Homo sapiens: one gene and its partner. The protein of the gene in region 1 purifies or fractionates together with the protein of each later gene. This does not show direct contact. Each region holds a gene or a part of one and is shown on either strand. Other genes may lie near its edges.

Region 1 (5,260 bases):
AAGGGGCGGGAGAAGATTCTGGAAAGATGGAGTAGGAAGCACTGGGAATCAGTCTCCCCACCGAGACAACACTTGCATCACAGGATCAGGCCTGTGCAACTACTGAGGTGCTCTGGAGTCTACTGAAGGTTTGCAACTTCAGGGGGAATCTTGGAGAGTAAACTGTGATTCATTAATCAACGTCACCGCTTCGCACATTAGTGGCTCCCACCTCACTCCCCGCTGGCAGGCAGCAGCCTGCATGCAGCTCGCCGGACCCAGGTGGGCAGACGGACACACACACCCGAGGTCAGTGTGATGACTGCGTGTCCCACCCCAGAGGCATGAAGAGGCAGCAGCCACGGCCACCCCCAAGCTGAAGGTACTTCCAGGGCATGAGCACCACGTCCCCCGTTGCCCCCTTCATTTCTCTCTATTCCCCCTTTAGGAGGCAGACACTTCAGGACAAGAACATTAAAAACATCTGTATTGACGGGAACGTTAAAAAGTGGCTGCACGTGACCAGGAAAAGGCTCAGGCTCAGAAAAGACCCGTGAAGACCCTGAGTTTCCACAACAGGCCGACCCCACAGACACAGCCCAGCACAACCAAAACAACAAGTGCACACCCTTGAGTGGGGACCAGGAAGAATCACATCATGAGAATCAAATGTCCATTTTTTTGACTAAGAAAAACACAAGAGAAACAAAGAAACAGGACAGTATGTCCCATTCAGAGGGGAAAAAAAGAAGCCAACAGACACGGTTCCTGAAAATCACCTGACGGTAGATGTCCCAGACAAAGATTTTAGGGAACTGTCTTAAACCTTCAGTTCCTCAGAGAACGAAAGGAAGATGTGGAGAAAGTCAAGAAAATGACGCGTGAACACGACGGAAATATCAACAGAGACAGAAGATCCAACAAGAAACCAGAGAGAAATTCCAGAGCTAATAAGTACATGCTCACAATAGACACTAAAAAGTAAATATTCACAACAGAAACTCACAGGCAGATGTGAGCAGGCAGAAGAAATAATCGGTGAGCCTGAAGACAATAAAATCACATCGTCTGAGGAAAAGAAAGCAGAAGAGACTGAAGAAAAGGGAGCAGTGCTGAGCGGCCTCGGGGACCCCAACAGATCTGTGGGAGCCCAGGAGGGAGGAGAGGAGCAGAGAGGGTATCTGAAGAATTCCTCAAAACCCCCACATTGGATGAAAACCGTAAATATAAACATTAGAGAGGCTCAGTGAACTCCAGGTAGAATGAAGTCAAGAGGCCCACAGGAAAACCCATTATTAAACAGTTGAAAGCCTAAGGCAAAGAGAATCTTCAAAGCATCCAAGGGATCCTCAATTAGGTCATCAGATTAAAGCATCCAAGGGATCCTCTATAAGATCATCAGATTTCTCATCAGAAACTTTGGAGGCCAGAAGACAATGGGCTGAAATAGTCCAAGTGAAAAGGAAAAACTGTCAGCTAGGCATGAGGGTTCCTTGAGCCCAGGAATTCAAGACCAGCCTGGGCAATACAGGGACACCTTGTTTCTACTGAAAAATGAGCCAGGTGTGGTGGCACACGCTACGCCTGTAGGTCCCAGCTACGCGGGAGGCTGAGGTGGGAAGATCACTTGTGCCCAGGAGTTCGAGGTTGCAGTGAGCTATGATCGCTCCACTGCACTCCAGCCTGGGCAACAGAAGAAGACTCTGTCTCAAAACAACAACAACAAAATTGTCAACCAAGAACCACGTATCCAGCAAACTTTCCTTCAAAGATGAGGGAGAAATGAGGATATTCTCAGATAAACAAAAGCAGAGGGAGTTCATTACTACTAGACCTAGACCTGCCTTGAAGAATAAGCTCCAGGGAGTTGTGTGGGGTGTAAGGAAAGGACGCGAGACAGAAACCGGAAGCTGGGTGAAGAAATAAAGATCTCCATTAAGGTGAGGACGTGGGTGACTATAAAAGCTCGTACTGGCCGGCCGCGGTGGCTCACGCCTGTAATCGCAGCACTGTGGGAGGCCGAGGTGGGTGGATCACGAGGCCAAGAGATCAAGAGACTATTCTGGCTAACACGGTGAAACCCTGTCTCTACTAAAAATATAAAAAAATAGCTGAACATGGTGGCGGGTGCCTGTAATCCCTGCTACTCCGGAGGCTGAGGCAGGAGGATCACTTGAACCCGGGGGGCAGAGGGTGCAGTGAGCCGAGATCGCGCCACCGCACTCCAGCCTGGGGGACAAGAGCAAAACTCTGCCTCCAAAAAAAAAAAAAAAGGCAGGGGCGAAAAGCAAGCACCGGAACCAAGCGCCCGCCTGTGACAGCAAGTGCCCAGCACCAGGGGGCAGCAGACACGCGTCCCGCCGAGCACAGCTGCCCACCGCGCCGCCTACCTTCCCTGCGGGCCTCCCGCTCCTTGCGCCGCTCCTCCGCCCGCCGCTCGCGCTCCTTCTGCTCCCGCTGCTCCTTCTGCTGCTCCCGCATCTTGCGCTCCCGCTCCCGCTTCCTTTCTAACTGCTCCAAGCGGTCCCTGAAGAGGCACACGCCATCATTCCCCCTAAACAGAAGCTTGCTTATCGCGTTTTTGTCCACATTTGTAAGCTGGCTTTCTACGTAATTCAATCCGTGAAGTTTTTTTTTCATTTTTTTATTTTATTTTCTTTGAGACGGAGTCTTCATCTGTCCCCCAGGCTGGAGTGCGGTGGCGCGATCTCGGCTCACTGCAACCTCCGCCTCCCGGGTTCGAGCGATTCTCCTGCCTCAGCCTCCCGAGTAGCTGGGATTACAGGCGTGCGCCCTGTACTCCCAGCTAATTTTTGTATTTTTAGTAGAGACGAGGGTTTCACCATGTTAGCCAGGATGGTCTCAATCTCCTGACCTCGTGATCCGCCTGCCTCCGCTTTTCAAAGTGCTGGGTTTACAGGCCCGAGCCACCGTGCCCAGCTGCCATTTCCAATTCTAATTAATAAATGATCCATTTCTTTCCATTCGATCGGTGTTTGCTTCATGGATTTTGGGCTCTGTGGTTAGATGCATTCACATGTATCATTGCTGTATCTTCCTGCTGTATTGGCCTGTTTCTGGCTGTGAAGTCCTTGCTCCTTCTTGTTTCTAGCTTTTTTTTTTTTTTTGAGACAGGGTCTTGGTTTGTCACCCAGGCTGGAGTGCAGTGGCGCAATCTCGGCTCACTGCAACCTCCATCTCACGAGTTCAAGTGATTCTCATACCTGAGCCTCCCGAGTAGCTGGGATTACAGGTGTGCACCACCACACCCAGGTGATTTTTGTATTTTTACTAGAGACAGGGTTTCACCATGTTGGCCAGGCTGGTTTCTAATATTTCTTAACATCTGTTTTGTCTGGTATGAGTACAGCCATTCAAGCTCTCCTATGACAGCTGATGTTTGTACGCTGCGTCTTTTCCTGTTCTCTAGCAGACAGCATACAGTTAGATCTTGTTTTTCTATCTGATAATCTGCCCTGTCTGTTTGGGGCACAGAGACCTTTCACATGTCATATAATTACACGTACAGTTGGATTTACTTTCCTTGCTTTGTTGTGTCTTTTTTATTCTTCCCTTTTTGATTTTAAATTACATACGTTTAGCATACCATTTTAATTTATTTGTACTTTTTAGAACACTAAGAAAACAACTTTCTTAGTGGTTGCTCTAGGGATCACCATATGCCTCATGATACTAGCTCAAGTCCAGTACAATATAAAACTGTTGTAACACAGCTTCATTCCCTGTCTTCTTTGTGCAGTCCATTTATGCCACATACCACGACAACAGTGTAATTATTTTACACAATCGTAGTTCCAGTAAAACCTAAGATGTGAGGAGAGATATTTACAGGATATTGACGTCAACCTACACTTGCTATCTGCAGTGCCTGTCCTTCCTTCCTGAGGATTCAAGTTACCGTCTGGTGTCATTTCTATTCAACTTGAAGGTCTTCCTTTAGTATTTCCTTTAAGGCAGGTTTCGCCAACAATGAATCCCACCAGTCTCTGCTTCTCAGGGAATGTCGTTCGTTCCCTTTCACTTGTGTAGAACAGTTTTGATTCCTGGCTGATGGTTCTTCTCTCTAAGCAGCTTGAGTATGCCACTCCACTGCCTTCTGGCCTCCATTGTTTCTAAGAAGTCAGTGGCTGGCGGTATTGAAGCTCCCCTTTCATGGGATGGGTCATTCTTCTCTGAGCCCTTTCAACATTTTCTCTTTGGCCTTTGCCAGTTTGACTATGATGTGACTTTGCATTTATTCTAGTTCAAACTTCCTGTGCTCTTGAATGTGCATATTTTTTAATTAAAATTTGGAAAGTTTTTAACCATTATTGTAACAAATATCTTTCCTCTCTCCTGGAACCCCCATTCGACGTGCTTTGGTACAGCAGATGTTGTACCACGGGTTTCTGAGGCTCTGTGCATTTTTCTTGTTTTTTTCTCTCTGTTCTTCAGAATGGATAATTTCTACTGCTCCATCCACAAGTTGTTTCCAAGCCTTTACTAAATTCAACATCTGGACACTCAAGACAGTTTCTACTGATGATGTTCTTCCTCAGTACGGGTCACACTGTCATACTTCTTTGTATTTTAGATAATACATTTGTAGCAATTCTGGATTCTAAGTTTTCCCTTTCGTTGTTACCACCAAGGCCTGTCTGGTTGTCCGTGAAATCCATCTCCCTCATAGCTCATGGCCACCCCGTTCCTTCCCACATGCCTATTTTAATTTTCAACCTTGGCTTCCTAGGGGTCACCACCATGGCTGCACAGCTTAGCAATTAGCCAGCACTGGAAAAAGGCTGGGCTCAAATACCTCGAGCACAGTAAGGCTTCCTTGGCCCACGGCTGTGTGTGGACAGGGAGCACACTGAACGTTCAGGCGTCATTCGCATCTGTGGCGGCTTCTATTTTCTGCTAGGTCCTTTCACGCAGCTGCATCCTCAGGGCTGGTCACAAGTGGGTGGCGGCTCGAGCTCTCTCCAGTCTCTGCTGCACGTCTTTGGCGGGATCACAGCTGCTCCCAACCACACTGTACTTCATTCTAGCAGACCTCTTGGCCTTTTCCTCCCTCCACTGAGGATGCTGGTGGGCAAGGCCACTGCCCACTGCTCTAAACGGAGTAACCCCTTCCAAGGCAGCAAGGAAACTGCAGGTCCTGCAGCTGCCCTGTCCCAGTGGAACCTCCGTGCTTCCAAGTGCAGAGTGGAAGCAGTAAAGGGAGCAGCTCTCAGGCCAGAAGGTCAGATTCTTACTGCTTTTACCCACAGCTCAGCAGTTT
Region 2 (4,785 bases), on another chromosome or scaffold:
CTCTCCAGTGTGAATTCTCTGATGCACAATAAGATTGGAGGAACGAGTAAAAGATTTGCTACATGCTTTACATTTGTAAAGGTTTTCTCCAGTATCAATTTGCTGCTGTTTAGTAAGGTATAAACTACAGTTAAGGTTAAAGACCTTGCCACATTCTTTCCATTTACAGGGTTTCTCTTCGGTAGGAATGATCTGATGTTGAGTAAGGTGCAAACTATGGTTTAAGCTATCCCCACATTTTTCACATTTGTATGGTTTCTCTTCATTATGGATTATCTGCTTTCTAAGATTTGATGACTGACTAAGATCTTTATCATATTTGTTATAGCTATATGAGTTTTCTCTGATATGGATGGTCTGATGTTGAATATGTTTTAATGACTGGGTACAAACTTCTACACATTTATTACATTTGTAAGACTGTTCTTGTTTCTCTTGCCCATGCATACTCTGAAGAAAGACTTCCTCAAATTCTTTACATTTGTATTGTTTTTCTAGAAAATAATTTTCCTGATGATTTTTAGGGCTTGAGCTTTGGTTCAAGGTTTTTTCAGAATTATTGCAATGATAATTTTTCTCTCCAATAAAAACATTTCGGTAACTATTTAGAGTAGAGACCTGCCTAAATAACACTGAAGTTTTATCATATATGTGATGTTTTCCCCAAATATCTATTTCCTCTTGTTGATTAAGCAATGATGAATGAGTAAAGACCTTCCTATATTGATCAAAGTTATAGCTTTTGGCACAAGAAGAAAGTATTTGCTGGTGAAACAAACTTTCAACAGAGGATTCATCAAATTGATCATATTTAAAAGTCTTTTCATCATAACATCCATTGTGCCCTTCACACTCCTCCCTTTTCCACCTTTTTCTTAAATGTAAATTCTCAAGATCACAGCTCCCATGTCTCCTCGATATCACTTTTTGGAATGAAGCTTCTGTGCAGTGCTCTGTCAACAGGTCCTTGTTATAATGCGAAAACACATCTGAAAGATATAAAAATTTTAAGAATTCCAATTACTATATTCAGGTACATATATTTTACAAATCTAATATACAAAATTATGCTAAGTTGAGAATACAACAACAGTTGAGTGAAAAACCTGAGGCCGTGTTTTCTCAATTGATATACAAACTTTACTACAATAAAGTGGCACGTGAACTACTAAGACACCAACAGTGAAGGAAAGGGAGTGCTTGTGCCACCTTGCCCTTGCCCCTCAGCAGCATCTGCATGGCGGGGAGAAATCTGTTCATTTGGGAGACGGAGAGCACAGTGACTAGGGGACTACAATGAACCCAGTGCTGCCCTATCACAGCAGAGACCTGGCAGGATTCATCACCTTCTGACTTAGGAGCTGCTGGTCTCTGAATAACCTACAGTGGTACCCCAATAACACATCATGAACATTGGACTCCGAGATGTGCTGGCTTCAGGTGTGACCCAGAACATTTCCCACTGTGGTGGGTATAGTGAAAGACACCTTCTGTTTGAGCAAAGCAGAGGAAAAAGTAAATGGGATTCTGTCTTGCACCTGAGGTACCAGCTTGGCCACAGTGGGGTAGAGCACCAAGCAGACTCTTAGGGTCCCTGAGTCAGCATTTCTGGACCTGCCCTGCACCAAAGAGTAAGTCCCAGTTGTGGAAGCAGTCATCATAAGCTGACTGAAGAGTGCTTGGGTGTTGAGTGAACATCAGTGATAGCCCAGTGGAAACCCCTGTGGGCTGGTGGTGGTGGCAGACACATTGTGAGGCTCCTCTGCCTGCAGAAAGGGGAGGGAGGAGTGGTAAGGATGTTGTCTTGTAATTTGAATGCCAGCTTAGCTGCAGTAGAATAGAACACGAGATAAATAAGGCTTCTGACTTCAATACCTGGCTCCCACACAATATCTCTGAACCTACCTGGGGCCAAAGGGAACTCACTGCCCTGAGGAGACACAAACCTGGCTGGTTACCACCTGCTGATTGTAGAGGCCTAAGGTCTTGAGTAAACTTAGGTGGTAGCCAGGCAGTAATTACACTGGGCCTTGGGTGACACCCAGTGCTGTGCTCACTTCAAGTCTAAATTAGCACAGTCCCAGTGGTGGGGGCAACAGGGAAGCTTATGTCATCCCACCCCAGCTCCAGGTAGCTCAGCATAGAGAAAGAAATTCCATTCGTCTGGAAGAAACTAAGGGAAGAGAACAAGAGTCTCTGCTTGGTAATCCAGATAATTCATCGATTTTAACCAAGACCAACCACATGGTACCTCTATGAGTCTGCAAGAACAACGTTATTGAGTTTGAGATCCAAGTACCTTCAAATTCTGGAAAGCCTTCCCAACAAGGGTGGACACAAAGCCCAGACTGCGAAGGCTACAATAAATGCCTAACTCTTCAATGCCAAGACACAGATGAACATCTACACATTAAGACCATCCAGTAAAATATGGCCTCACCTAACAAACTGAATAAGGCATAAGAGGCCAATCCTGGAGAAACAAAATAAGTAACTTTTCAGACAGATGATTCAACATAGTTGTGTTGAGGAAACAAATTCAAGATAAAATAGAGAAGGAATTCAGATTCTATCAGATAAATCAAACAAAGAGGTTGAAATAATTAAAAGGAATCAAGCAGAAATTGAAGTTAAAAAAGCAATTGGCATACTGAAGAATGCATCAGTCTCTTAATAGCAAAACTGATCAGGCAAAAGAAAAAATTATTGAGCTTGAACATAGGCAATTTGAAAATATGTAGAGAAGACAAAAAAGAATGAAGTATGCCTACAAGATTTAGAAAACACCCTGAAAAGGGCAAATCTAAGAGTTGTTAGCCTTAAAGAGAGAAAGAGACAGGGGTAGAAAGTTTCAAGAATACGATCAGAGAACTTCCCAAATCTATAAAGATATCAATATCCAAGTACAACCAGGTTACAGAACACAAAGCAGATTGAACCCAAAGACGACTACCTCAAGACATTTAATAATCAAACTCCCAAAAATTAAGAATAAAGGATCCTAAAAGCAGCAAGAAAAAAGAAACAGCATACAATGAAACTCCAGTACGTCTGGCAGCAGATTTTCAGTGGAAATCTTACAGGCCAGGAGAGAATAGCATGACATATTTAAAGTGCTGAAGTAGCAAAGCTTTTACACTAGAATAGTCTATCCCGTGAAAATATTCCATAGCCATGAAGGAGAAAAAAATGACCTTCCCAGACAAACACTGAGAGATTTCATTAAAACCAGACCTGTCCTACAAGTAATACTAAGGGGCATTCTCTTCCATCTGTAAGAAAAGAATGTTAATGAACAATAAGAAGTCATCTGAAGGTACAGAACTCATTGGTAATAGCACAGAGAAAAACTGAGTATTATAATATGGTAACTGTGGTGTGTAAAATACTCAAGTAGAAATACTCAATGATGACTCAATACAACTACAACAATGTTTCAAGACAAAGACAGTACAATAAGACATAAAGAGAACCAACAAAAAGTTGAAAAATGGGGAAGCAAAGTTAAAGGTAGAGTTTTTACTAGTTTTCTTATTGCTTATTTGTTCACTTAGGCAATCAGTGTGAAGTTGTCAGCAGTTAAAACAATAGGTTATAAGATAGTATTTGTAAGTTTCATGGTAACCTCAAATAAAAAAACATACAACAGACACAGAAACCAAAAAGCAAGAAATTAAATCATACCACCAAGAAAAATCATGTTCACTAAAATGAAGACAGAAAGGAAGGACAAAAGAAAGAGAAGATGCAAAAACAAATAACAAAATGGCAGGAGTGAACACATACTTATCAATAATAATGCTGAATGGAAATGCACTAAACACTCCAATTAGATGACATAGAATGGGTGAAAAAAAGAAAAAGGAAGACCCAATTATCTGCTGCCCACAAGAAATACACTTCATCTATAAAGATACACATAGACTGAAAAATAAAAGAATGGAAAAATGTTCCATGCCAATGAAAACAAAAAAAAAGAACCAAAGTAGCTATACTTACATCAGATAAAATATATTTCAAGATAAAAACTGTGAAGACAGAACAAATGTCATTTTATGATAAAGGGATCAATTCAGTCAGAGAATATAACAATTTTAAATATCCATGCACCCTACACTAAAGCACTGAGACATAGAGTATTAGAGCTAAAGAGAGAGGCCCCAATACAATAATAATTGAGACTTCAACACACCACTTTCAGCATTGTACAGATCTTACAGATAGAAAATCATGAAAGAAACATCAGACTTAATCTGTGCTATAAACCAAATATACCTAATAAATATTTGCAGAACATTTTATCTAATGGCTACAGAACACACATTCTTCTCAGCACATAGATAATTTTCAGATACACAACATTTTAGGTTACAAAACAAGTCTTAAAACATTCAGAAAAGTGAAATAATATCAAACATCTCTGCCCACAATGGAATATAACTAGAAATCAGTAACAAGAATTTTGGAAACTATACAAACAAATGTAAATTAAACAATACGCTCCTCAATGAAAATTGGATCAGTAAAGAAATTAAGAACGAAATTGAAAAATTTCTTCAAACAAATAATGAAAAAACACATACCAAAACCTATGGGATACAGCAAAAGCAGTACTGAGAAATGTATAGATATATGTGCTTACATCAAAAAAGAAAAAAATCATATAACCTAATGTTGGATCTTAAAGAAAAAACAGCAAAACAAAAATTATAATAAACATCACAGCAGAAATAAAATTCAAATAAAAAATACAAAAAAAATCAATGAAATGAAAAGTTGATTTTT

What was found. Proteins that work in one complex are often made in the same cells at the same time.
Region 2: the proteins of CDK11A (region 1) and ZNF267 purify together in Homo sapiens (affinity purification with mass spectrometry; one large-scale study listed by BioGRID and IntAct). This does not show direct contact.

The regions. Positions count from the first base shown.
Region 1 is NC_000001.11:1,709,895-1,715,154, forward strand, and holds part of CDK11A (cyclin-dependent kinase 11A), read right to left. Parts: intron 2,534-5,260; coding exon of another isoform or gene 2,507-2,533; coding exon 2,370-2,506; intron 1-2,369. UniProt on the Homo sapiens protein: Appears to play multiple roles in cell cycle progression, cytokinesis and apoptosis. The p110 isoforms have been suggested to be involved in pre-mRNA splicing, potentially by phosphorylating the splicing protein SFRS7.
Region 2 is NC_000016.10:31,910,680-31,915,464, reverse strand, and holds part of ZNF267 (zinc finger protein 267), read right to left. Parts: intron 990-4,785; coding exon 1-989. UniProt on the Homo sapiens protein: May be involved in transcriptional regulation.